Linked DNA regions of Homo sapiens. The protein of the gene in region 6 purifies or fractionates together with the protein of the main gene of each other region. This does not show direct contact. Each region holds a gene or a part of one and is shown on either strand. Other genes may lie near its edges.

Region 1 (3,500 bases), on a different chromosome or scaffold from region 6:
GTATAACCCACATTACCTATAATTTTCCCAACAACACTTGTTTTATGAATGAGGAAACTGTCTTAATCATGTAACATTTCTTGCCAAGGTCTCATAGGTAATAAATGATAGACCTGGAAACTGAATCTAGTTTGTTTGATTTGGAGCTCCAAACTATTTCCACTACACAGGATGACTTGCTAGAAGAAACCATGAAGCACAGAGACAAACAAACAAACAAAATAAGGGGTTAATAAAACACCCTCCCATATACAGGTTTTAATTCTTGCAACAGTTTTGCCAGGAAGCCATTTTATGAGCTCCTTTTATAGATAAGGAAACTGAGGCCAGGGGTGTGATTTGCCTAAGTTTACAGGATCACTGAAAGAGCCAGGGCTTATCTTTCAAATGCCAGGTCTCTTGGACTCAGTCTCATGTTCTTTGCAACAAAAGGTAAGTTCCTTCATTCACTTCTTCACTCCATTTATTGAGCTGATCTCTTCTCGCTGGATTTTAGGGCTCTCTCCTCCTCCTCCCCGCTCTTTCCTGGCTGAAGTTGGCTTCTTCCTTAGGTGCTTATTTCTGCCGCCTATCAGACTGAAAGGGTTGTTTTTCACAGCCACCCTTTGAGGAGTCATTTCTTTCCCCCAGCCTGGGACAGGGACGACTTCCCAGATGGTCCCTGGGCCTTCATCTGTATTGCTTGTCACGGAGATAGCTCTATCATTTTATGTGACTGTCACAAAATAGAGGAAAGATTTGATTGATGCTTATCTTACAAATGCAATTCTGCATGCACCACTGTGCATGACCTGTCTGCTTAGATCTGCCTCAGGCAGCTGCCTGCTGGGATGCTTTTTGCCTGTCTTCCAAATGTCTGAGTAGCCCCTGGCCGCCCCCTCCTAAGAAGATCCCCTTGGGGGCTTCCATCTGAATGAGCCTTCCAACTGAACTCAGCTCTCTGCCTCTCCCCGTTCTCACACCACCTACTGGGAAAGCCATGCTGTGTGTGCATAAGCAGATGTTAACAGTGTGGTATGGCAAGTACAGTACGGTAGCAGGACACTCAGGATGTTGGGTATGCTTCTTTTTTTTAATTTTTATTTTTAGAGATAGGGTCTCACTCTGTCACCCAGGTTGGGATACAGTGGTGCAATCATAGCTCACTCTAACCTCGAACCTCTGGACTCAAGTGATTTTCCAGCCTCAGCCTCCCAAGTACCGAGGACTACAGGTGCACACCACCACATCCGACTAATTTAAACTTTTTTTGGCTGGGCGCGGTGGCTCACGCCTGTAATCCCAGCACTTTGGGAGGCCGAGGCAGGCGGATCACAAGGTCAGGAGACCGAGACCATCCTGGCTAACACGGTGAAACCCCATCTCTAGTAAAAATACAAAAAATTAGCCGGGTATGGTGGCGGGTGTCTGTAGTCCCAGCTACTCGGGAGGCTGAGGCAGGAGAATGGCGTGAACCCGGGAGGCGGAGCTTGCAGTGAGCTGAGATCGCGCCACTGCCCTCCAGCCTGGGCGACAGAGTGAGACTCTGCCTCAAAAAAAAAAAAAAAAAAAAAATTCGTAGAAATGGAATCTCACTATGTTTCCCAGGCTGGTTTTGAACTCCTGGCCTCAAGTGATTTTCCCATTTTGGCATCCCAAAGTGTTGGGATTACAGGCATGAGCCACCATGCCCAGCCAGGATGCTTCTTTATTCACCCTAAAATTGTTGTGGTTTTCGTTTTCCTTAATCCCGTCAAACCTGGAAGCCATTAGGTAACAGAAGTTCCATTCATGACCCTCCAACTGACTTGCTGTGTGAGCTTGGACAAATCACTTGTCTTTGCAGAGCCTCAATTTTTTTTTTTTTTTTTTACCTGTAAGATAAACGGAGGTAGATCAGGAACTGAAACAATTTTTTACTCTTGCCATCACTTCCTAGTCTCCTATCTGTGGCAGTCACAGCTAATAAAGGCAGGCAAATTTCTCACTGATTCTACACGAGGCTACATGTATTTTTCTCAGCACAGTGTATGAAACATACTTATATACGTTCTCTTATTTAAAATTCACAGCACCTCGTGAAGTAAGTATTATTGTCAGATGAGGACACTGAGGCATAGAATTTAAGTAACTAGGCCAAGTTTACACACTGAGTTACTGGGAAAGCTGGGCCCAGTAGCCAGGCTTTTTGTTACAATAAAAAGCTGCTACTCCAAAGTCCCCTCTAATTCTAGCAGTTTAAGAGTGTGAAGCTGGGCTACATCAGAAAAGTGAAAACCAGTAATCTGACATTTACACTGATAGTCTGGCACTTGAAAAATGCTCTATATGTGTTTCTTGAAAGACATAACACCCTCTAAGGATTTACTGTAGGTCTAGCGTTGACCAGATGTAAGGATGGATAAAGCCCCCTTGAATCCAGAAGAGAGAGCAAACAGTTAATTGTAAAACAGGCCCAAATAATGGAGCCACAATCAGGGAGAGGGCAGTTGAACAAGATTTGCCTGCAGAAGTGAATTAAAGGGGCCAGTGAAATAATATGTATTCAGTACCTCCATGGGCCGAGAAACTGTGTCAGATTGTTTACGTATAGTACTACTCTTTCTATTTGTACCAAGCTCTGTGAAGTAGGTGGTATTTTCTCTATTTTAAGGTAAAAGTGCTGTGGCTTAGAGAGGCAATATGACTTACCTAAGAATTCATCTGAGGGTAGAGCATTGATTTTAAACTTTTTCATAACACTGCAGGGTACTAAGTCTAGTCTCGGCTGTTAGCTATGAGATTTGGGCAAATCCTTTTAATTTCTCATTTTCAGTTTCCTTCTTGATCAAATGGAAATAATAATCCACGTCTTTCCAGCTTTATTTCCCAGGTTTATTTAGAGATAAAAGAAGATAAAGGATATGAAATTGTGGTAAAGATCACATTTATGTTTTAGTAGTGACTCTTTGACCAGCAATTCCACTTCAAGGAATCTCTCTCAAGGAAGTAATTAGGAAAATGTACAAAAATTTATGTAAAGAAATGTTCACTGCAGTTTCATGTATAATAATTAAGAGTAGAAAAACAACTTAAAAACAACTTCCTAAAGAGAGTGACAACATTAAATAATTGATCTGGCTGGGCCAACATGGTGAAACCCCATCTCTATTAAAAATACAAAAATTAGCCGGTGTGATGGTGAGCACCTGTAGTCCCAGCTACTTGGGAGGCTGAGGCAGGAGAATCGCTTGAACCCAGGAGTTGGAGGTTGCAGTGAGCCAAGATTGTGCCATTGCACTCCAGCCAGGGTGACAGAGCAAGACTCTGTCTCAAAAAAAAAAAAAAAAAAAAAGAATTGGTCTTATGACACATCTATAGGATGGAATATAATGTAGTCAACTGAAATGATGTTTTTTTAGAGTTTTCAAAGTCTCGTTCATGCTTTTTTTTTTTTTTTTTTTTTTTTTTTTTTTTTTAATTAGAGAGTCTCCACTGTTGCCTGGGCTGGAGTGCAGTGGCACAATCTCCGCTCACTGTAA
Region 2 (3,500 bases), on a different chromosome or scaffold from region 6:
ATGTCTTACTCCAATCTTAGGGGGAAAGCATTCATTTCACTATTAAGTATGATGTCAGCTTTAGGTTTTTTTTGTTGACATCATTTATCAGGTTGAGAACATTTCTTTCTATCCCTAATTTGCTGATAGTTTTGTTAATATCATGAACAGATACTGAATTCTGTCAAAAGCCTTTTCTGCATCAATTGATATGGACATGTGGCTGCTTCTTTAGGCTGTCAGTATGGTGGATTACGTTCACTGATTTTCAATACTGGTGGATTACATTCACTGATTTTCAAATATTGAACCAGCCTTCCATTCCTTGGTCATGGTGTATTATTCATTTTATGTGTTGCTGGATTTGATTTGCTAATATTTTGTTGAGGATTTTTATCCATGTTCATGACAGGCATTGGTGTGTAGTTTTCTGTTCTCATAATGTCTTTGACTGGTTTTGGTGTGAGGATAATGTTGGCCTCATAGAATTAATTGGAAGTATTCCTTCCTCTTCTATTTTTTGGAAGAAATTGAGTATATTTGGTGTTATTTCTTCTTTGAAGGTTTGGTAGAATTTACCAAGAGACCATCTGGGCCTGGAGGTTTCTTATTTGAAAGGTTTTTAACCACAAAGTCAACTTCTTTAGTAATTAGGATTGTTCAAGTTATTTATTTCATCTTGGATGAGTTTTTGTAATTTGTGATTTTCAAGGAATTCCATCTATTTCATTAAATTTTTTAATGTATATCAATAGAGTTGTTTATAGTATTTGTTTATTGTCCTTTTGATAGTTGCACAGTTTGTAGTGATATGACCTTTTTCATTCTGATTTTGGTATTTTATGTCTTCTCTTTTTCTTGTCAGACTTGTAGAGGTTTATCAATTGTATTGATTTTTTTCCAAAGAAGCAACTTTTGGTTTCATTGATTTTTCTCTATTGTTTTTCCATATACAGTTTAATTGATTTCTACTCTTATTTCTTTCCTTCTGCTTGCTTTTGGTTTATTTTGTTCTCTATAGCTTCTTAGATTACTTACTGGATACCTTGCATTTTTGCCAATACAAGTATTTTAATGCTATAAATTTCCCTCTAAACACTGCTTTAGCTGCATCCTGCAAATGTTTAAATGTATTACTTTTATTTTCATTTAGTTCAAAATATTTTCTAATACTCCTTGAGATTTTCCCATAGGCTGTTTAGAAATGTGTTGTTTAGTTTCCATGTATTTAGAGGCTTTCCAGTTATTTTTTGCTATTGACTTCTAGCTTAATTTTATTATGATCCAAGAACATACTTTATATGATTTCACTTATTTTATATTTGTGCAACACCCGGTATGTGACCTGGGTGTTGTTGTCTCTGTTGTTTCAGTTTTCAGTGTCTTTGGTACACTAAGTAGGATCAAATCCATGCATGCACAGCTTTGGCAATGAGCTCAAGCATTCACGAACTACTTCATGGGGTTGCTTTCTCACACTTCACCCTGTCTACAGTCTCTGCCATACTTTGTGATTTGCTGGGGCTCCCTTTTTCGGTCCCCAGGCCAAATTTTCTCATGCACTTGCACAACTGCACCTATGTCCAGGGCCAAGTGGTAGAAGGACAAAGAATAAAAGCAATGGGAGTTTGCCCCACTGTCTTGAGATACAGTTCCATCAGTCAGAAAAATTTCCCTTCTGGGCCCGGCGCGGTGGCTCACGCCTGTAATCTCAGCACTTTGGGAGGCCAAGGCGGGCGGATCATGAGGTCAGGAGATCGAGACCATCCTGGCTAACATGGTGAAACCCTGTCTCTACTAAAAATACAAAAGATTAGCCAGGCGTTGTGGCGGGCGCCTGTAGTCCCAGCTACTTGGGAGGCTGAGGCAGGAGAATGGCATGAACCTGGGAGACGGAGCTTGCAGTGAGCCGAGATCACGCCACTGCACCCCAGCTTGGGCAACAGAGTGAGACTCCGTCTCAAAAAAAAAAAAAAAGAAAAATTTCCCTTCCTCTGTATTTGTAAGCAGGCGTTCCCAACCCCTGGTCCATGGCCTGTTAGGAACCAGGCCACACAGTGGGAGGTGAGTGGCAGGTGAGTGAGCATTACCATCTGAGCTCCACCTCCTGTCAGATTAGCAGAGGCATTAGATTCTCATAGGAGCGTGAATCCTATTGTGAACTGTGCATGTGAGGGATCTAGGTTGCAGGCTTCTTATGATAATCTAACTAATGCCTGATGATCTGAGGTGGAACAGCTTCATCCTGAAACCATCCCCCAAACACCTGTCCATGGAAAAATTGTCTGCCATGAAACTAGTCTCTGGTACCAAAAAGGTTGGGGACTGTTGTTTTTGAGCATTCTGCTTGTGTTATAGCCTTTGCCACAACTGTCATGAAATTGCTCAGAAGCTGGCTTACAACAGAAGGAAAAATATTGTATTTCTACACTATCTCCAAGTATTCGTGTGTCCCCTTTCTTGTTTCATGAGCCAGAACTATAGGCCTTCTTCTGGAGTATTCTGTTCACACTTTTGGGTTTTAAGCTGAGTTGCATTCAGACAAGGGGATATGGAAGGAAACTGCTAATTCAATGGTTCTTCACATTGCAGTCTTCCTTAATATGCTCACTATTAATTTTTCAGAGTCCTCAAATAGCCACTTCATGTATCCTGTCCAGGTTTTATAGTTGCATTCACTGGGAAAGACAGGATAGAGTTTGCTTATTCTGTCTTACCTAGAACAGAACCCCATTTTCTATCTTTTGATTGAAGCAAGTCTTTCAAAGGCTTTGTTTTCTGTGTGGAAGTCTAATTGTTATGTGAAACCTAAATATAGTATAAGTTTGAGTATATATATGTAGATTCCAGCAAGACCTAATAAAGAATAAGCACAACTAATTTAAAACCTATATTTCAAAGCCTCATTGATATTTATTTCCTATCTCAATTCCTTTCATCACTGATGTCTTCATTAACCTAGCTTGTTCTCTATTTTCTACTAAAATTTCTACTTAAGAAACTTATCCTTAAATTTAGGGTTAGGAGACAGCATATTCATATCAGAAAGAAATCTGCATTTTTGTCAGGGAATTCAGTAAAAGTTCTATACCCATTTGCATTTTGACACTACAGTTTCATTTTGATTCTATAGATAAACCTGCAAATGTATAAAACAACCTTAATACATTGGTGTGCTTTGTTGGTGCATTATTGTATAGCATCAAAAAATTTGGAAACAACCCTAGTGTCCGAGCAACGAAAGATTCATTGAATAAATAATGGCATATCCACATACTGGAGTAGTATTCAATGTTTAAAAAAGAATCAGGAAGATCTCTATGAACTAAAATAGAAAGATCTACAGAGGGTACATTATTAGGTTTAACAAATCAAAATGCAGAGAATATATATCGTATACCTCCTATTGTATAAGAAAGAAAAGAAATAATATGTATTTATATTTGGATAAAGAATCAGTGAAAAATAAGAAACTAATAAAAATGGTAACCTATAGGGGGCCAGGGGAGATGGGTGGATGG
Region 3 (3,500 bases), on a different chromosome or scaffold from region 6:
GGGGGGAAGCTGGGCTCCTGCGCAGATGGGCAGTGTCCTTCGGAGCGGCTCCTGGTTATTGGGTTGTTAGTGGAGCAGGTTTTAGGAAAGAGCAGGGTCTGAAGGGGCCGATTTGGAGCTGTTGGGCTGTGTGTCCTTAGGCAAGTTGCCGAAGCTCTCTGCGCTCGTTTCCTGGAGGGCCTGCCTCTGGGATTGGCTTCCATGTGGAGGGTGCCAGGTGCTCTGCTGCAGGCGTCAACGTGCGTGCCGGGGTGTGGTGTCTGGCAGCTCTGTGTGCTTGGTGCTGCTGTCATCCCATTTGACAGAGGGCGCCCTGGAGGGGTCCCTCCCAGCGGCCAAGCCTGTGCTCCACACAGTGGCCTGTGCAGAGTGAGGGGCGGCTGTCTGGCTCCACGGGCACCTCCTTGGCTCTCTCGAGCAGCTCCTCTGGAAGTGACCTCAGGAAGGCGAATGAGGAAGTCCCAGCCAGCGGCCCCCTTCCTTCCCACAGCATGAAAGCCCGGCACTCCCCAGGCTGGCTGCCCCTGCCCCCGGGCCCCTCGGCATCTCCCGAGGGTGGGAAGTGTGGGGTGCAGCGCCCCCATGGATGGCTGGGAGTATGGGGGAGAGCAGGGCTGCTGGAGAGGGACAGGTGTGCTGGGCGAGCAGCTCCTGGGGCTGGAGCCAAGGCGGAGGGCTTGTCACTGGGTTCACCCTATGCTGAGCACATTTGTGCTGTGGCCCGTGATGCCCGGAATCCCTGGGAGCTCCCAGTCCCGGGGTCGCCCTGGTGTGGTGCTGTGTGGTGACCGTTGATGAGCCCTGTGAGCGAGGGCTCTGTGGCCTGCATGTCTTGGCAGCTGCCAGTGAGAATCTGCGGAGGACACTGGGGCAGGGCTGGCATCAGTGCTTTGGGCAGCCTGGGGCTGCAGGCCCAGGCGAGGCAAGCCCTCATGCCGTTGGCTGGTCTGGGCGCTGACCTCATGAATCCTTGCTCTGGGTTGGTCCTGTCGCTAGGATTTCAGCTGCTTTATTTTGGTTAATCCCGGTAGAGAGACCTGTGACTATCTCCATTTTATGGACAGGAAAACAGGCCCAGGGAGGATGAAGCCTCCTAACTCAGTGGGGCAGAGGTTGGGGGCACTCAGGGTTGGCCCTGAGTCTGCCGAGGCCCTGCATCGACTGGGCAGGTGGCGCCCCTGCCTTCCTGCCCCGTCCTGTGCCTTAAAACCAGGCGGAGGTTCAGGGTGGCAGAGGTTCAGAGGCCCGTGGCCATGAGGAATGAACTCCTGGGCAGGGCAGTGGGGCCTGGGGGGTCCGAGGCTCTTTCAGCAGGAGGAGCCACAGCCCCTCCCTGCCATCATGCAGTCAGCTGCTTTCTGGGCTGGGCAGAGCGGGAAGAAGGTGAACTGGTTCCTCCATTCCGTGGGGAGGCGGGGAGGAGTCACTCAGCTTCCTGGGAGCAACATGGGTTTTTCCCCAGGGGCTTGGGAAGGGGCGGCCTGTGGGCAGCGGCTGGGCCCCTGCTGCCGTCCCACGTGTCTGGGGAAGCAGACAGGTGGCTCCATCTTAGAGTCCCGCTCTGGCCCTCATGAGGCAGGAGGCCCAGCAGGGCGCCCTGAGGGGCCACTGGAAGTCTCGACGCCCTTTGATGGTCACTGGCAAAGAAGGAAGGAGTTTTGGGGAGGTGAGGAGTTTTCAGGAATAGGGCAGTCAGGATGCAGTAGCGTGACTTTTTTCCGATGCAGGGCGTTCAGAGAGAAACTGAAACTGCATCCTGTTAGCCTGGCGAGAAAAAGCCTTGTGGTCACCCCTTCTCGGGTTCTTGCTCTCAGAAGCTGAGGTTTGCCGGCCCTGAGAGGTGCGGGTGGGATGGAGGTGAGGGGAGAAGTGACAAGGAAGGCAAGGCCCTGGCGTTGGGCCTGGGAGTCAGCCCTGGGCGCCAGGACTTCCAGCTGGCCGCTGCACTCAGCCTCACGTCCTTGCTGGTCACATGGCCATCCTGAGGTCTGCTGGATCAGGTGGCTGCAGACATTAATAAGGTAATGGATACCAAGCCCCCAGCTCTGTGCCTGGCCTAGAGCAGAGTCCCTGTGAGTGAAGGTGATTCCTGGTGGCCATGGGAAACGTCGGTGCTCCGGTTCCTCCTAGCCAGAGCTCTGAGCCCCTGACTTCATCCCCAGACAAATTCTCTGCTCTCAGATAAAGCCCCTTTCCTGGGCCCCGGATGAGGCAGAGGCGCCCAGGGAGCCGCGGGGGCTGTGCGCCGGGGCCATGGCTGCAGGCGTTTCTTGGCATCTCTGATCATCTTCAGCAAAGGAGAGTCTGCAGAGCCATCCGCTCCTTGGGCTTCCTCTGCTGGCAGGGGACAGTCGCCTGTTCCTGTGGCTCCGGCGCGCCCTCGCTCTGGAAGGCGTCTGACACACCATGCCATGTGCTGACCCGGCGCTCTCAGCAGCAGCTGCCAAGGCCAGAGCTAGTTCTTGGGCCCAGTGCCAAGAGAGCTTGATCGTCACAGCTACCCCGAAGCCAAGGAGCGACGCTGCCCTGGAAGCAAAGCTGTGGGCAGAATGAAGCCCTGGGAAGAGATCCCAGCGGTCGTGTTGAGGATGGAGCAAGGATGGGGCAGGGGCGGTGGCAGGGGCAGGTTGGGCTTTGTCCCAGGGCTGGGCAGGAGCTCTGGCTCTGCAGCATCAGGGAAGATGCTCAGGGCTGCCCCTAAGCTGCCTGTTGGTTTCCTTCCACCACCTCTGTCTGGGACCACAGATTGTCCTTGAAGGCACATTGATGATGCTGAAGAACGCATACTGACTGTTTACTGCTCCCCCGCCTTGGGGTAATGCTTAGCTCCTTTCTTCCTCATGACCACCCCAGTTAAGGACTAGCCACCTGTGTGCTATAACTGTTGAAGCTGCAAGGTGTGGCAGGGTGAATGCAGGCACCTTCCCAAGGGCCAGCCTTTCAGAGATGGAGCCAGGGTTGGTCTTTGTCCTTAGATCGGGCCTCAGATGTGAAGCATTGGCCAGAGAGCTGATGGGCAGGTGGACAGGAATGGAGCTGCAGCCACAAGTCAGCCTGGCTGCCCCATTCTTGCTCAGCCTGCGCTGACTTGGGCTGTTCCTGAACTGGGGCTTGGGCTGTCCCCATGAACCTCATGGGGGTGGAGGTAATTAGGGCTGGGGCAGGTGGCAGCCAGAAAGCCGGGAGGAAGCGGCCTGTCCACTCATGGTTTGTCTGTGTGCTGTCCTGAGGAGCCCTGGGGTGGAGGTCCCTGCGGCTTTGGGGAGAGGGGACAGAGGGACAGCTCTGGCTGATTGCACAGTGTGGGGCGGGGCTGCCGCCTGGCCTCCGGCTCTTCGACAGCTCTCGGGGAAGCGGAGGCTGTGGTCCCCCTCCTCCTCCGGGGATTGATGTCGTCCTGTGCCACTGGGATGAATGGGGACATGGGGTCTGGAGAGGAGAGTTGGGCCTCCCCTTCCTTCTGGCCTTCCTGGCTGGCCCTGGGCTCTGCATGTTTGGGG
Region 4 (3,500 bases), on a different chromosome or scaffold from region 6:
TTAAGATGAAACAGAAGTTTACAAATACAGATTTTGAGGTCAAAGAAAAGTTTTCAGAGGCATTTCCTATAAGGAACTTGCCTTCCTTCCCAGGGAGATTGTGGGCTCATTTGCTCCAGCCCAGGGTGTTTTGAGAGGAGAATGTGGGAGGCGCTTCTATAATAAGGAGTGAGCCCCCAGCTGGGGTGGAAAGAGCTGGGCCTCTGAAGTCGGAACGATCTGGCTTTATACTCAGCTCTACCTCTCATTGTGTGTCCCTGAGCAAGTCATGAAGCCTCTCTAAGCCACCACTTCCCTAACTTTAAAGTACAGATAATAATATCTTCCCTATGAGGTTACTGTGAGGGTTAAATAAAATGCTATTGTAGTGCAGAGAGGGCATTACATGCTGTTTTAAAATGGAGCTGCATCATAGGGTTTTCAGCAAGGGAGCTTCGTGCTGCCGAGAGGATGAGCGCCATGGGTGATGATGAAGAGGCTACTGCAATAGTCCAGGTGTGAGAGGATAGAGCTGGCAAGGTGAGGGTGAATTAAAGAGACTTTGGAGGTAGAAACATCAGGAGCTGATGATGATCAAATGCAGGGAGAAAGGAACAGGAGCAGTTTAGGCTGATGACCAGGTTTCTAGCTTGGCAAATGAAGGGACAATGGATTAGTGATTCCATGAGCCAAGCAATACGGGGAACAAAGGAGAAAGCAGGAGCTTCATGAGAGAAAGGGATAATGACGTCCATGTGAGCACATTGCATTCAAGGATCCTCGAGACACCAGGTGGAAACGTCTGAGTTCTGCAAGTGAGCCTTGTAGTAAAGAGAGCAATATGTGAGGCACCTGCTGAGAGCAGAGTAGGTGTTCAGTTAACATACTGAAAGAGACCGGAGTAGGTGTTAACATTGTGAAAGAAACCAGAGTAGGTGTTCAGCTAACATTCTGAAAGAAACCAGAGTAGGTGTTCGGTTAACATTGTGAAGGAAATCACAGTAGGTTTTCAATTAACATTGTGAAAGAAATCAGAGTAGGTGTTCAGTTAATATTCTGAAAGAGACCACAGTAGGAGTTCAGTTAACATTGTGAAAGAAACCAGAGTAGGTGTTCAGTTAACATTCTGAAGGAGACCACAGTAGGTGTTCAGCTAACATTCTGAAAGAAACCAGAGTAGGTGTTCAGTTAACATTGTGAAGGAAATCACAGTAGGTGTTCAGTTAACATTGTGAAAGAAACCAGAGTAGGTGTTCAGTTAATATTCTGAAAGAGACCACAGTAGGTGTTCAGTTAACATTGTGAAAGAAACCAGAGTAGGTGTTCAGTTAACATTCTGAAAGAGACCACAGTAGGAGTTCAGTTAACATTGTGAAAGAAACCAGAGTAGGTGTTCAGTTAACATTGTGAAAGAAATCACAGTAGGTGTTCAGTTAACATTGTGAAAGAAATCAGAGTAGGTGTTCAGTTAATTATCTGAAAGAGACCAGAGTAGGTGTTCAGTTAACATTCTGAAAGAGAACAGAGTAGGTGTTCAGTTAACATTCTGAAAGGAAAGGTAGATTACTTTAGTAACCAATTTAGCCACATTCAAGGATTAGGTATTTAGTTGTTCCAAAATATGACGAAGGATGCCCTAATAATTAAAGAAGAGATATCCACCAGCTTTGGAAGATATGGGGTGGTGAGGTTTTGCTCCAGAAAGTTAGCAATGCTGGCTGGGCATGGTGGCTCACACCTGTAATCCCAGCATTTTGGGATTACATCCGGCAAGGCAGATGGATTGTTTGAGCCCATGAGTTCCAGACCAGCCTGGGTGAAACCCCATCTCTACTAAAAATATAAAAAACTAGGTGGGCATGGTGGCACATGCCTGTAGTCCCAGCTACTTGGGAGGCTAAGGTGGGAGGATCACCTGAGCCCAGGAAGTCAGGCCATGGTGAGCCATGATTGTGCCACTGCACTCCAGCCTGGGCCACAGGAGTGAGACCCTGTCAAAGAAAGGAAGAAAGGGGAAGGGGAAGCGGAGGAGGTGAAGGGGAAGGGGGAGGGGAAGGGGAGGAAAGGGGAGGGAAAGGGGGAGGGGAAGGGGAGGGAGGGGGAGGGGAAGGAAAAATTAGCAATACCATCCCTGCTGGGGCTTTTCAGGCCCAGCTCCAGTAGCATGAGATATTGCCTAGAGGCCCAGTTCTTTTGGGGTTAATTGGAAAAAGACAGAATCACCACATCCAGTGGAGGGAAGTGGGCTGGCTGGCAGCTGCTCAGTGAATCACAGCAGCTTTACATGGTCCTCAGGATGCAGGACTTAAGGCAAGGCCACTGAGGTGGCCAGACTGGGGGAACAGAGACAGACTCCCACAGTCACACCCCCACTGAAATGCTGCAAGCATTGGAATAGTGTTGTATTACTTGTACAGTTAGATTCACAAGTTGTCAAGAGGCCTGGGGCCTGGAGAACAGAATGACATAGAAACCTAATTATGGCCTGGAGGTTTTGCAGGAAATCTGAGGAACAAGATGCTGCCATTGTCAAGTGAAAATGATGTCATTAACGGAAAGAGCTCAGCGATGACTTGCACCCGGGGAGGGTGCAGATGTCATTAGGGCAACACTAGCATGAAAACCTCAGGCTTTGCCCATGCAACAAATGAGGACATTTCTCACACCTACCCCAGATGGTGCTCACTCTGCTAGTCCCAAGATCCTACCAGGGTGGGGGGTGAGAGATGGGGGATCCCCAAGAAACCAACTCCGTGACGAAGGGCTGGACCCAGGTTCAGCACCACAAGCTCTGTGCCATCGGGGTACATTACTGCTCAGTCTGGGGGTGGCAGTGAGTGATGGGGTGTCAGAGGATCTTCTTATGTATTTGGGGGCACCACCATCATCAAGGTGCAGGAGGCAAGGCTGGACACCACCTCCTGAGGTCTAGGGTCATGAGCATTAAGGATTTGGTGGATATTCACCAGCTGGGTGTCTGGCCTGAGCCTGGGAACTGCCGGGGAGATAAAATCAGAGACAAGGAGGCAGCACCCCTGTCCCTGGAAGTTGCCCCCTGAGAAGGACACTTGAGATGGACTGCCAGGGACAATTTTGCGTGATACACAGGATGCTCTGCCCCTGCTCAGGTCCATGCCAATGTAGCACAAACCCCTTCCACGTAGAGTGAATGCTCATCACTCACCCCGAGGCCCACAGTACTGGCTGTGGGAGGAACATGAACGCGATTGAGCTCTGTGACTAGCAGAGGCCATAGCAGCGTGAAGAGATGGGATCCCTTGAAGAAGAAAGTCTTCAGCCTGAGGAACCCATCTGCTTAAAGAAGGGCCCCCTCCTCCATACCACCCCAACCCCTGAACTGGGGAGGGGGGGCAGGCTCTTGGTGAGAAGTGGAGCCAGCTGGAAAGGCAGAAGCTTGGCAGACCGAGAAGGGGCTTCCTCTGGACCCTTGTTGGGACAAGAGAGACTGGAGAAGCAAAAGGGCCCGGGAGAAACATTGAGTCCATTTTAGGGAGGGCTGC
Region 5 (3,500 bases), on a different chromosome or scaffold from region 6:
GAATACTATTCCTCTAGGTATCTATTTGGCTTACTCCCCCACTTCCTTCATGTCTTGGCATAAGTGAAGCCTGCCTAAACCACCCGATTTTATTTTATTTTATTATTTTTTGGCACAGTCTCACTCTGTTGCCTGGGCTGGAGTACAATGGCATGATCATGGCTCACTGCAGCCTGCAACCTCCCAGGCTCGAGTGATCCTGCTGTCTCAGCCTCCTGAGTAGCTGAGACTACAAGTGCATGCCACCATGCCTGGCTAATTTTTAAAAACTTTTTTGTAGAGATGGGGTCTCACTATATTGCCCAGGCTGGCCTGAAACTCCTGGGCTCAAGCCATGCTCCTGTCTCAGCCTCTTAAATTGCTGGGACTACTGGCATGGGTCACCATGCCTGGCCCCTTCCTATTTTAAACTGCATTTCTGATTCTCCTTAACCTGACATATTTGCCCATGTATATCATCTAAGATACTCGAATTTACTTGTGTTTATTTAATCTGTTTCTCCTCATTAGAATGTAAGCTCCATGAGGGCAGGAATTTTTAACTTTTTGTTCAGTGATATATCAGTGCTGGCTGGGCGCGGTGGCTCACGCCTGTAATCCCAGCACTTTGGAAGGCCGAGGCAGGCAGATCACTTCAGGTCGGAAGTTTGAGACCAGGCTGGCCAACATGGTGAAACCCTGTCTCTACTAAAAATATAAAAATTAGCCAGGTGTGGTGGCCCGTGCCAGTAATCCAAGCTACCCAGGAGGCTGAGGCAGGAGAATTGCTTGAACCTAGGAGGCAGAGGTTGCATTGAGCCGAGATTGTGCCTCTGCACTCCAGCCTGAGCAACAGAATGAGACTCTATGACTCTATATCCAAAATATATACATACATATATATATATATATATATATATATATAAAATTGCCTAATAGTACCTGGCACGTAGTGCTTAATAATAAATATTTACTGAATGAACGAATGAATTATAATCTGTAGACTTTAAGAATTTATGTAATTGGAACCTTTTTCTGTGGCTTGTTAATCTTATTCTGGATAGTTGAGTTTACTTGATAAATGGCATAAATATATAAGGAGAGTACTGTATCTTAATATTGCATGTATGGTAAGTAATAAATTGATTGTTAAACTGATTTTTATGGAACACTTTGGAGTTTAAGTCCTTTAATTATTTAGTATTTTAAAGTATAAAGTCTGTAGTTTTAAGTGTCTAACCTATTTTTTGTTGAGATCTGAAAACTTAATATAAGTGTGTCTGTTGGTATTGCTTGGTTAGAGAGCTAAAATATTTCTAATTGGGTTTATTTTGTATTTTGCCTATAGATACACTCTGTGCAGTTTTAGAGAGAGACACACTCAGTATTCGAGAAAGTCGACTTTTTGGAGCTGTTGTACGCTGGGCAGAAGCAGAATGTCAGAGACAACAATTACCTGTGACTTTTGGGAATAAACAAAAAGTTCTAGGAAAAGCACTTTCCTTAATCCGGTTCCCACTGATGACAATTGAGGAATTTGCAGCAGGTAAGGGTATAAATTCACCAAAATCTATTTGAAACTGTTTTAATAGTCTGTCAGGGCTGGGCCTGGTGGCTCACACCTATAATCCCAGCACTTTCGAGAGGCCAAGGCAGGTGGATCACTTGAGGACAGGAGTTCGACACCAGCCTTGTCAACATGGTAAAACCCCGTCTCTACTAAAAGTACAAAAAATTAGGCATGGTGGTGGGCACCTGTAATCTCAGCTACTCAGGAGGCTGAGGCAGGAGAATCGCTTGAACCCAGGAGACGGAGGTTGCAGTGAGCCGAGATCATGCCGTTGCATTCCAGCCCGGGCGACAGAGCGAGATTCCACGAGACTCCATCTCAAAAAAAAAAAAAAATTCTATCAGTCTCCCTGCGCCAGAGAGGAAAAGAAGCTTTTATTCAGTACTAATCACATGACAAACATATATGCGAGTGTATGATTTTAAGCCCTTCAAAATTATATTATCCACATTGTATAGGTTAGAGAAGTAAAGTTGGGAGAGGTTGAGTGCCTTACCCCAGGTTATGACAGATCTTTTTGGCTTTTTTTTTTTTTCTTTTTTTTCTTTTTTTGAGACAGAGTCTTCCTCTGTTACCCAGGCTGGAGTGCCGTGGCACAAACGCATTTCACTGAAGCCTCCACCTCCCAGGCTCAATCAATCCTCCCACCTCAGCCTCCCAAATAGCAGGGACTATAGGTGCACACTACCATGCTCAGCTAATTTTTTAATTTTTTTTATAGAGACAGGATTTCACCATCCTGTCAGGGCTGGTCTTGAACTCCTGGGCTCAAGCCTCCCAAAGTGCTGGGATTACAGGTGTAAGCCACCACGCCCAGCCTCTGTTTGACTCTTAAGGTCGATGCTTCTGATTAAAATCAGACAGATCTGTTTTGAGTCTCCATGACCACTTCTGACCTGTTTTCATTACCCAGGTCATAATTGACTATTATCTGCCTTTAAATCACGGCCAGATTGATTCAAAAGAAAGAAAAGTCTCATGGTTTTTTTTTTTTTTTTTTTTTTGAGACAGGGTCTCCCTCTGTTGCTCAGGCTGGAGTGCGGTCGTGCGATCTCAGCTCACCGCAACGTCCATCTCCTGGGTTCAAGCGATTCTCACACCTCAGCCTCCTGAGTAGCTGGGATTACAGGCGTGCACCGCCACAAACTAATTTTTGTATTTTTAGTAGAGACAGAGTTTCACCATATTTGTCAAGCTGGTCTTGAACTCCTGACCTCAGGTGATCTGCCCACCTCGGGCTCCCAAAGTGCTGGGATTATAGGCATGAGCCACTGTGCCTAGCTCTCATGATTTTTTAAAAAATAATTTCAACTTTTATTTTAAATTCGGGGTAACGTGCAGATTTGTTTCATGTGTATATTGTGTGATGCTGAAGTTTGAGGTACAGTTGATTGCATCACTTAGGCAGTGAGCATAGTGTCCAGTAGTTAGTTTTTTAACTCTTTTCCCCCTTCTGTCCCTTCCTCTTTTCCCCTTTTTAACAGTCCTCAGTGCTTATTGTTTCCATCTTTATGTCCATGTGTATCCAATGTTTAGCTTCCACAAGTGAGAACATACGGTATTTGGTTTACTGTTTCTGCATTAACTCACTTAAGATAATGGCTTCTAGCTGCATCCATGTTGCTGCGAAAGGCATGATTTTGTTCTTTTTTATGGCTTTATAGTATTCTGTGGTGTGTGTGTGTCCGTGTGTGTGTGTGTGTGTGTGTGTGTGTGTGTCACATTCTCTACCCAGTCTACCACTGATGGGCACCCAGGTTGAGTCAGTGTCGTTGCTGTGATGAACATATGAGTGCATGTGTCTTTTGGTGGAACATTTTCTTTTCTTTTGGATATATAACCAGTAATGGGATTGCTGGGTTGACTGGTAGTTCTATGTTTTTTGGTTTTTTTGGGAGGTTGTTTGTGGTTTTTTTTTTTTTTTTTGAGACAGAGCCTCACTCTGTCACCC
Region 6 (3,500 bases):
TGAGCCAAGACTAGGTCACTGCACTCCAGCCTTTATGACAGGGCGAGACTCCATCTCAAAAAAAAAAAAAAAAAAGTAGCCTGGAGTGGTGGCGCACGCTTGTAGTCCCAACTACTTGGGAGGCCTAGGCAGGAGAATCGCTCGAACCTGGGAGGTGGAGGTTGCAGTGAGCTGAGATCGTACTACTACATTCCAGCCTGGGTGACAGAGTGAGTGAGACTTCGTCTCGAAAAAATTAAATAAATAGGCTGAGTGCGGTTGTTCATGCCTGTAATCCCAGCACTTTGGGAGGCCGAGGTGGGCAGATCACTTGAGGTCAGGAGTTCAAGACCAGCCTGGCCAACATGGCAAAACCCCATTTCTACTACAAGTACAAAAAAAATTAGCCAGGCATGGTGGCGCACACCTGTAGTCCCAGCTACTCAAGAGGCTGAGGCGGGAGAATTGCTTGAACCTAGGAGGCGAAGGTTGCAGTGAGCCAAGACTGCGCAACTGCAGTCCAGCCTGGGCGACAGAGAGACTCCGTCTCAAAATAAATAATGAATTAATTAATTAATATATTAGCTAGGACAAAAGCTCAGCCCTTCTGTCTCACCGGCCATGTCCTGAGTGTTTGCTAGGCACACACGACTCACGCCACCCCTCTGAATAGCCCAGGTCACAGAATATTTCTGCCTTCCCAGAAAGCCCCATTGCTTTCTGGGTGTGGCTGGCAGGGAATGGAGGGCTGGTGCTCAGTAGGTGCACTCCGAGAGGGAGGCAGACAGGCAGCGGGAGAGGAAACAGAGTTTCAATAAAGGGCCCAAGTCAGACTTGCTTGGGACGATGAAGAATCATGTAAGTTTCTGAATGTTTGACTGAGTAGTGGACACTGGCCAGGACCCAAAGCCTCTTCTCTTCTGGGGAGCCCCCACCCCTGTTACGGATCCAAAAGTCAGACGTTCTGTCTTCGCTCCTGACAGGCAGGCTGTGAACACAAACAAGGCATGGCCTGCCAAAGCCGCTAACTCTAGGAAGAAGCAAAGGACGATGTGCATGGTGGTGGGGGGTGCTGCAGCCAGCCTCTCTGCCGGCGGCCCATGCCTGGAACTGCTTCTTCAGCATGCCTGCGAATGCACCACCCACCTGACGTTTCTGCAGTTGGCTGCTTAGCTGCACGAGCTGCTCCGGCACCTGTCCTCCTGCTGAGATACGGCTGAGCACGAGTGGTCACACTGGGAATGGCAGAGGCAGACAGAAAACAGACATTTGAAGAGAACCTTAGCTGGGCTGGCAGTGAGGCAGGTGTGGGAGTCAGAGAGGGAGACCCTGGGTGTGGCTGGCAGGGAATGGAGGGCTAGTGCTCTGTAGGTGCACTCCGAGAGGGAGGCAGACAGGCAGCGGGAGAGGAAACATACGCATTTAACAGATGGCAGAACTTCTAGCTGGAAGGCCCTGAGAACTCAGCAAAGATGCAGGCTGCAGGACAGGAGAGGGCAGGGCTGGGGACAAAGGTCAGGAATGCTCCACACACCGTCACCTGGCTCACTCCTCACCACTCGGCCTCCACTTGCTCCCCTGCTCAGAGTACCCCTTGCCAGCCCACCAGAAGAGCTCCCCTCCACCCCGACACCCTCCCCTGCCCTGCTTTGAGTCGTAGCGCTCCTCATCGCAGAACTGCGCCTCCAAAGTGCCTTCCTGACACACAGGAAGCGCCACATTCACGTGTTAGATAAATGAGAGGACTGAGAAGTCGCCCTTGGAAAGATGACAGCTGTTGCCAAGAAAGGGGCGGAATCTAGGGGCGGCAGAGGTTCAGGAGCCACAGCTGTGGGGAAGGCCGGAGCCAGAGTCTAGTGGCACAGGAACCAAACAGACAGTTTCAATAAAGGGCCCACAGGGTTCACTATGATGAGTGGCTTAAAAATCTACTGCTCAACAGGAGATGGGGCGACCACTGATGGAGTAAGGGGTAGCAGGACCCAAAGGAAAGGTAAAGGCATTAAACTGCGAAAAGGAAGGCCACGCCTTTCTCTGAGAGGCATCAGGGGAAGAGAAATAAGGTTCCTTCTAGCAAGACATGCACAGGACAGCAAGCCTGGGCCAAGTCTCAGCCCACCTGCAGAGCACCCACACTAACCTGACACTCAGCAGAATCACGCTTCCACCGTCCACACCAGACCACCACACACGAGGCTGCTGCCAAATGGGTCAGGCATGGTGGTGGCAGACACCCTTGAAGACCTGGCGTTTTCTAGGTAAGAGAAAAAAAAAATTAGAGCTATTTCTAAGATTAGAGGCCTTCGTAGCATGAAAAATAATGGGAGCAGCTTACAGCCAGTCTCAAATAAGAACGTGTCTGATGAGGATGTAGACACTCCCCAGGGTTCTGAATGGCTTAGCAGGCCTCTGACCTTCTCAGCAGGAGCTGACATTTTAGCTGAACTCTTGCACCTCTGAGGCACTCTAAACCAGTATTTGATCAAGGATCTCTGTATTTATTTTTTTAGAGATAGGGTCTTGAGGCCAGCTCAGTGGCTCATGCTTGTAATCCCAACACTTCGGGAGGCCAAGGCAGGAGGATTGCTTCAGCCCATGAGTTTGAGACCAGCCTGGGTAACACAGTGAGACCCTGTCTCTACAAAAAATTTTTAAAAAAAATTAGCCAGGCCGGGCGCGGTGGCTCACGCCTGTAACCCCGGCACTTTGGGAGGCCGAGGTGGGCAGATCAGGAGGTCAGGAGATCGAGACCATCCTGGCTAACATGGTGAAACCCCATCTCTACTAAAAATACAAAAAAAATCAGCCAGGCATGGTGACAGGCGCCTATAGTCCCAGCTACTCGGGAGGCTGAGGCAGGAGAATGGCGTGAACCTGAGACGCAGAGCTTGCAGTGAGCCAAGATCACGGCACTGCACTCCAGCCTGGGCGACACAGCAAGACTCCATCTCAAAAAAAAAAAAAAAAAAAAAAATTAGCCGGGCATGCCTCTAGTCCAAGTTACTTGGGGGACTAAGTTGGGAGGTCACTTCAGCCTGGGAGGTCAAGGCTGCAAGTTCCCATCTTTCCTTTTTTTTTTTTTTTTTTTTTTTTGAGACCAAGTTTCACTCTTGTCACCCAGGCTGGAGTGCAATGGCGTGATCTCAGCTCACTGCAACCTCTGCCTCCCAGGTTTAAGTGATTCTCCTGCCTCAGCCTCCTGAGTAGCTGGGATTACAGGTGTCTGCCACCACACCTGGCTAATTTTTGTATTTTAGTAGAGACAGAGTTTCACCATGTTGGCCAGGCTGGTCTCGAACTCCCGACCTCAGGTGATCCACCTACCTCAGCCTCCCTAAGTGCTAGGATTACAGGCATGAGCCACTGCATCCAGCCAAGTCCCCATCTTTCTTACTCTTGGTTATAAGGGGGTGCTCTGGCAGCATCTACATCACACCAACTTACTTTTCAGGCCATAGGCCTGGCAGTTTCCTTCTCAAGCAGGAGAGGGAAACCAGAGGCAACGCTGACAAGCCACTTCC
Region 7 (3,500 bases), on a different chromosome or scaffold from region 6:
ATACGTTGTAAGATGTTCAGTATCATCCTTGTCCTCTACCTGCTGGATACGAATAGCAGCACACCCCCTCCAAGTTGTGGCAACCAGAAATGTATCCAGACGTTGACAGATGCCCCTACACTGCAAACCACCCGTTTAACATCTTATCCCCTTTCTGTTCTTTTTCTTCCCAAAGTCATGTCTCACAAGAGAACAGCGAGTACGGATCTTAAGCAACTGAACCAGGTCAACTTTACCCTTCCCAAGAAGGAAGGACTTTCCTTTCTTGGTGGCCTTCGGTCTAAGAATGATGTCCTTTCCCGCTCTAATGTCTGCATCAATGGGAACCATGTTTACCTGGAGCAGCCAGAAGCCAAGGGTGAGATCAAGGATAGCAGCCCGTCCTCCTCCCCATCCCCCAAGGGCTTCAGAAAGAAGCATTTGTTCTCTTCTACAGAGAACCTGGCGGCTGGGTCTTGGAAGGAGCCTGCTGAAGGAGGTGGGCTGTCTTCTGACAGGCAGCTCTCCGAATCTTCCACCAAGGACTCCTTGAAGTCTATGACCCTGCCGTCCTACCGACCTGCCCCACTGGTCAGTGGGGACCTCAGGGAAAACATGGCCCCCGCAAACTCAGAGGCCACAAAAGAAGCTAAGGAGAGCAAGAAGCCAGAGAGCAGGAGGTCCTCTTTGCTGTCTCTGATGACGGGGAAGAAGGATGTGGCTAAGGGCAGTGAAGGTGAAAACCCTCTCACGGTCCCAGGGAGGGAGAAGGAAGGCATGCTGATGGGGGTTAAGCCGGGGGAGGACGCATCGGGGCCTGCTGAAGACCTTGTGAGAAGATCTGAGAAAGATACTGCAGCTGTTGTCTCCAGACAGGGCAGCTCCCTGAACCTCTTTGAAGATGTGCAGATCACAGAACCAGAAGCTGAGCCAGAGTCCAAGTCTGAACCGAGACCTCCAATTTCCTCTCCGAGGGCTCCCCAGACCAGAGCTGTCAAGCCCCGGTGAGTTTTGGCTCTTCTCGTGCAGGGCATTTCTGCCTTGCCATTGGTGGTTTTCAGGCTTACGTTAGACCAGCTCTTGTGGGTCCCATGATATCATAGTACCCATATATGCCAAAGGTTTGCTGGTCTAAATTATTTTTTTAACCAGTCCCTACTGCCAGCCTGGCCTGCCCTGTATAAATTGCAGTGATGTTTCCCAGCTCAGAGCTACTGCCCAGCAGGCATGGTCTGTCCTTTCAGTCAGCTTATCAGATCTCAGTGGAACGCAGTGGTTTGTAGCAGATTGTGGGTGTTGCAAGTTGGGAATACTGAGTTTGGGTTGTAGTGTATGCAGAACCTGTGTTTTCGAAGTTCTTATCTCACATTTCCCTTTGAGCCAGATGTTATCCTGCCTCCTTGCCTTTTGGCATTGGTTTCTGGTATGAGAGACCCTCGGTCCTCTCTCAAGTGACAGTGACGGTTCTTTGTGTCCACTCTGCCCCTTGTTGTAAGAGCCGGCATAAGCCTTGGGGACTGGCCTTGGGGACTTCTGCTTTTCTGTGTGATCACATTCATACTGACAATATTTCTGCGGTCTGGGGAGTGAGATTTTTTTTTTTAGAGATTCTGCTTACTTTGACATGCACACACACACACACACACATATACACACACATACACACTGTTCCTCTTAAACTTATCTGTGCCTGTTGCTTTGTGTTACATCTTTAACCACTTTAAACCTTTTAGGTGCATTTTGTCCTGTAATAATCAAATGCTCGGGCCTTGTGTTAATCACCACAAGAAACCAGAGGCTATTGCTTTACCGGGATCTTTTCATTTCTATTGCAACAGACTTTTGTGTGACGGATCTGCTTGGTTATAAAAGTGTCTGTTGTGTATGTTAAGTGTTAGTGTTCCTTTTTTTTTTTGAGACAGTCTCCCTCTATCGCCCAGGCTGGAGTGCAGTGGCACGATCTCAACTCACTGCAACCTCCACCTCCCAGGTTCAAGCAGTTCTCCTGCCTCAGCCTCCCGAGTAGCTGGGACTACAGGTGCACACCACCACACCCGGCTAATTTTTGCATTTTTCAGTAGAGATGAGGTTTCACCATGTTGGCTGGGCTGGTCTTGAACTCCTGACTTCAGGTGATCCGCCTGCCTCGGCCTCCCACAGTGCTGGGATTACAGGCGTGAGCCACCGCGCCCGGCTAGCGTTCCTTTTTTAACTTCTTAAGGTACTGCCCCACGTGTAAAGACGTTCTCCCCTGGTGAATGACTTGTTTTTGTGTATTTTCTTTGTCTCTCGTGATGCATCTGCACTGACCTGCAGATTTTATTTTGTCCTTTTTGCAGACTGGAAGTGTCTCCAGAGGCGCAACCCACAGCCAGGCTTCCTTCCCCTACTGACTCCCCTTCCTCTCTTCCTCCTCTTCCTTCTAGCTCTGGCCAGGCATCTGTCCCCTCTGAATTGGGACATGGTGCAGACACACAGTCCTCTGAGAGTCCTTCTGTCTTCTCCTCTCTCTCATCTCCCATAGCAGCTCCCATTTCCACATCCACTCCAATTGAAAGCTGGCCTCTCGTAGACAGGGGCCAGGCCAAGTCTGAAGGACCACCCTTGCTCCCTAAGGCAGAGTTGCAAACTGAGAGTTTAACACCGGTTCCAAATTCTGGTTCTTCTGCCCTGGGATCACTTTTCAAACAGCCATCCTTTCCAGCAAATAAAGGGACAGAAGATTCTCTGATGGGCAGGACCCGTGAGACAGGCACAGAGAAGAACACCAGCAGCCTTGAGTTGGAGGAGTCTCTCCCAGAGCAGCCTGAAACAGGGCGACAAGAGGAAGAACTTCCGAGATTCCCCTGCAAAAAACAAGACTACAGCCCATCATCTGGAGAAGCCCAGGAAGTACCGTTTGCCCTTTCACTCAGCAGTGATGGAGCTGTGAGCCCTGTTGGGGAGCTTGCAGCAGGAGGAGACAGAGACTTGGAGAGTCAGGCTGGGTCTCTTGTGGAGAGCAAAGCCAGGGATGCAGCTGAAGAAGTGGCGCCCCCTCTTCCCATGGGAGCATCAGTCCCTTCCATTGATTCCATGATGCGGAAGCTGGAAGAGATGGGTCTGAACCTCCGCAAGGACCAGAAGAAAACCAAGAAGCGTGTGTCATTTTCTGAGCAGCTCTTCACGGAAGAGGCAGTGGCGGGGGCTGCCTTGCTGGTGGAAGGACACAGCAGTTGTCCCCAGGAGCTGAACCCTGCATGGTCTGTTGCTGGAAACGCGTCTGACGGAGAGCCTCCTGAGTCTCCCCACGCAGAGGACTCAGAAAGGGAATCGGTGACCACACCTGGGCCAGCGACGTGTGGTGCGCCAGCCTCCCCAGCGGATCACCTCCTCCTCCCCTCCCAGGAGGAGAGTTTCTCCGAAGTCCCCATGAGTGAAGCAAGCTCAGCGAAAGACACTCCACTCTTTAGGATGGAGGGAGAGGATGCCCTTGTGACTCAGTATCAGAGCAAAGCCAGTGACCACGAAGGTTTATTGTC

The links.
Region 1: the proteins of FLCN (region 6) and RAB3B purify together in Homo sapiens (affinity purification with mass spectrometry, with the first as the bait; one study listed by BioGRID). This does not show direct contact.
Region 2: the proteins of FLCN (region 6) and RABL3 purify together in Homo sapiens (affinity purification with mass spectrometry, with the first as the bait; one study listed by BioGRID). This does not show direct contact.
Region 3: the proteins of FLCN (region 6) and RAB35 purify together in Homo sapiens (affinity purification with western blotting; one study listed by BioGRID). This does not show direct contact.
Region 4: the proteins of FLCN (region 6) and RAB7B purify together in Homo sapiens (affinity purification with western blotting, with the first as the bait; one study listed by BioGRID). This does not show direct contact.
Region 5: the proteins of FLCN (region 6) and BTBD1 purify together in Homo sapiens (affinity purification with mass spectrometry; one large-scale study listed by BioGRID and IntAct). This does not show direct contact.
Region 7: the proteins of FLCN (region 6) and RAB11FIP1 purify together in Homo sapiens (affinity purification with mass spectrometry, with the first as the bait; one study listed by BioGRID). This does not show direct contact.

What each region holds. Positions count from the first base shown.
Region 1 is NC_000001.11:51,984,201-51,987,700, reverse strand, and holds part of RAB3B (ras-related protein Rab-3B), read left to right. Parts: intron 1-3,500. UniProt on the Homo sapiens protein: The small GTPases Rab are key regulators of intracellular membrane trafficking, from the formation of transport vesicles to their fusion with membranes.
Region 2 is NC_000003.12:120,701,017-120,704,516, reverse strand, and holds part of RABL3 (rab-like protein 3), read left to right. Parts: intron 1-3,500. UniProt on the Homo sapiens protein: Required for KRAS signaling regulation and modulation of cell proliferation. Regulator of KRAS prenylation, and probably prenylation of other small GTPases. Required for lymphocyte development and function. Not required for myeloid cell development.
Region 3 is NC_000012.12:120,099,754-120,103,253, reverse strand, and holds part of RAB35 (ras-related protein Rab-35), read left to right. Parts: intron 1-3,500. UniProt on the Homo sapiens protein: The small GTPases Rab are key regulators of intracellular membrane trafficking, from the formation of transport vesicles to their fusion with membranes.
Region 4 is NC_000001.11:205,979,396-205,982,895, reverse strand, and holds part of RAB7B (ras-related protein Rab-7b), read left to right. Parts: intron 1-3,500. UniProt on the Homo sapiens protein: Controls vesicular trafficking from endosomes to the trans-Golgi network (TGN). Acts as a negative regulator of TLR9 signaling and can suppress TLR9-triggered TNFA, IL6, and IFNB production in macrophages by promoting TLR9 lysosomal degradation.
Region 5 is NC_000015.10:83,039,753-83,043,252, reverse strand, and holds part of BTBD1 (BTB/POZ domain-containing protein 1), read left to right. Parts: intron 1-1,327; coding exon 1,328-1,525; intron 1,526-3,500.
Region 6 is NC_000017.11:17,230,669-17,234,168, forward strand, and holds part of FLCN (folliculin), read right to left. Parts: intron 2,234-3,500; 5' UTR 2,120-2,233; intron 1,215-2,119; 5' UTR 1,126-1,214; intron 1-1,125. UniProt on the Homo sapiens protein: Multi-functional protein, involved in both the cellular response to amino acid availability and in the regulation of glycolysis.
Region 7 is NC_000008.11:37,871,998-37,875,497, reverse strand, and holds part of RAB11FIP1 (rab11 family-interacting protein 1), read left to right. Parts: intron 1-175; coding exon 176-983; intron 984-2,318; coding exon 2,319-3,500. UniProt on the Homo sapiens protein: A Rab11 effector protein involved in the endosomal recycling process. Also involved in controlling membrane trafficking along the phagocytic pathway and in phagocytosis. Interaction with RAB14 may function in the process of neurite formation.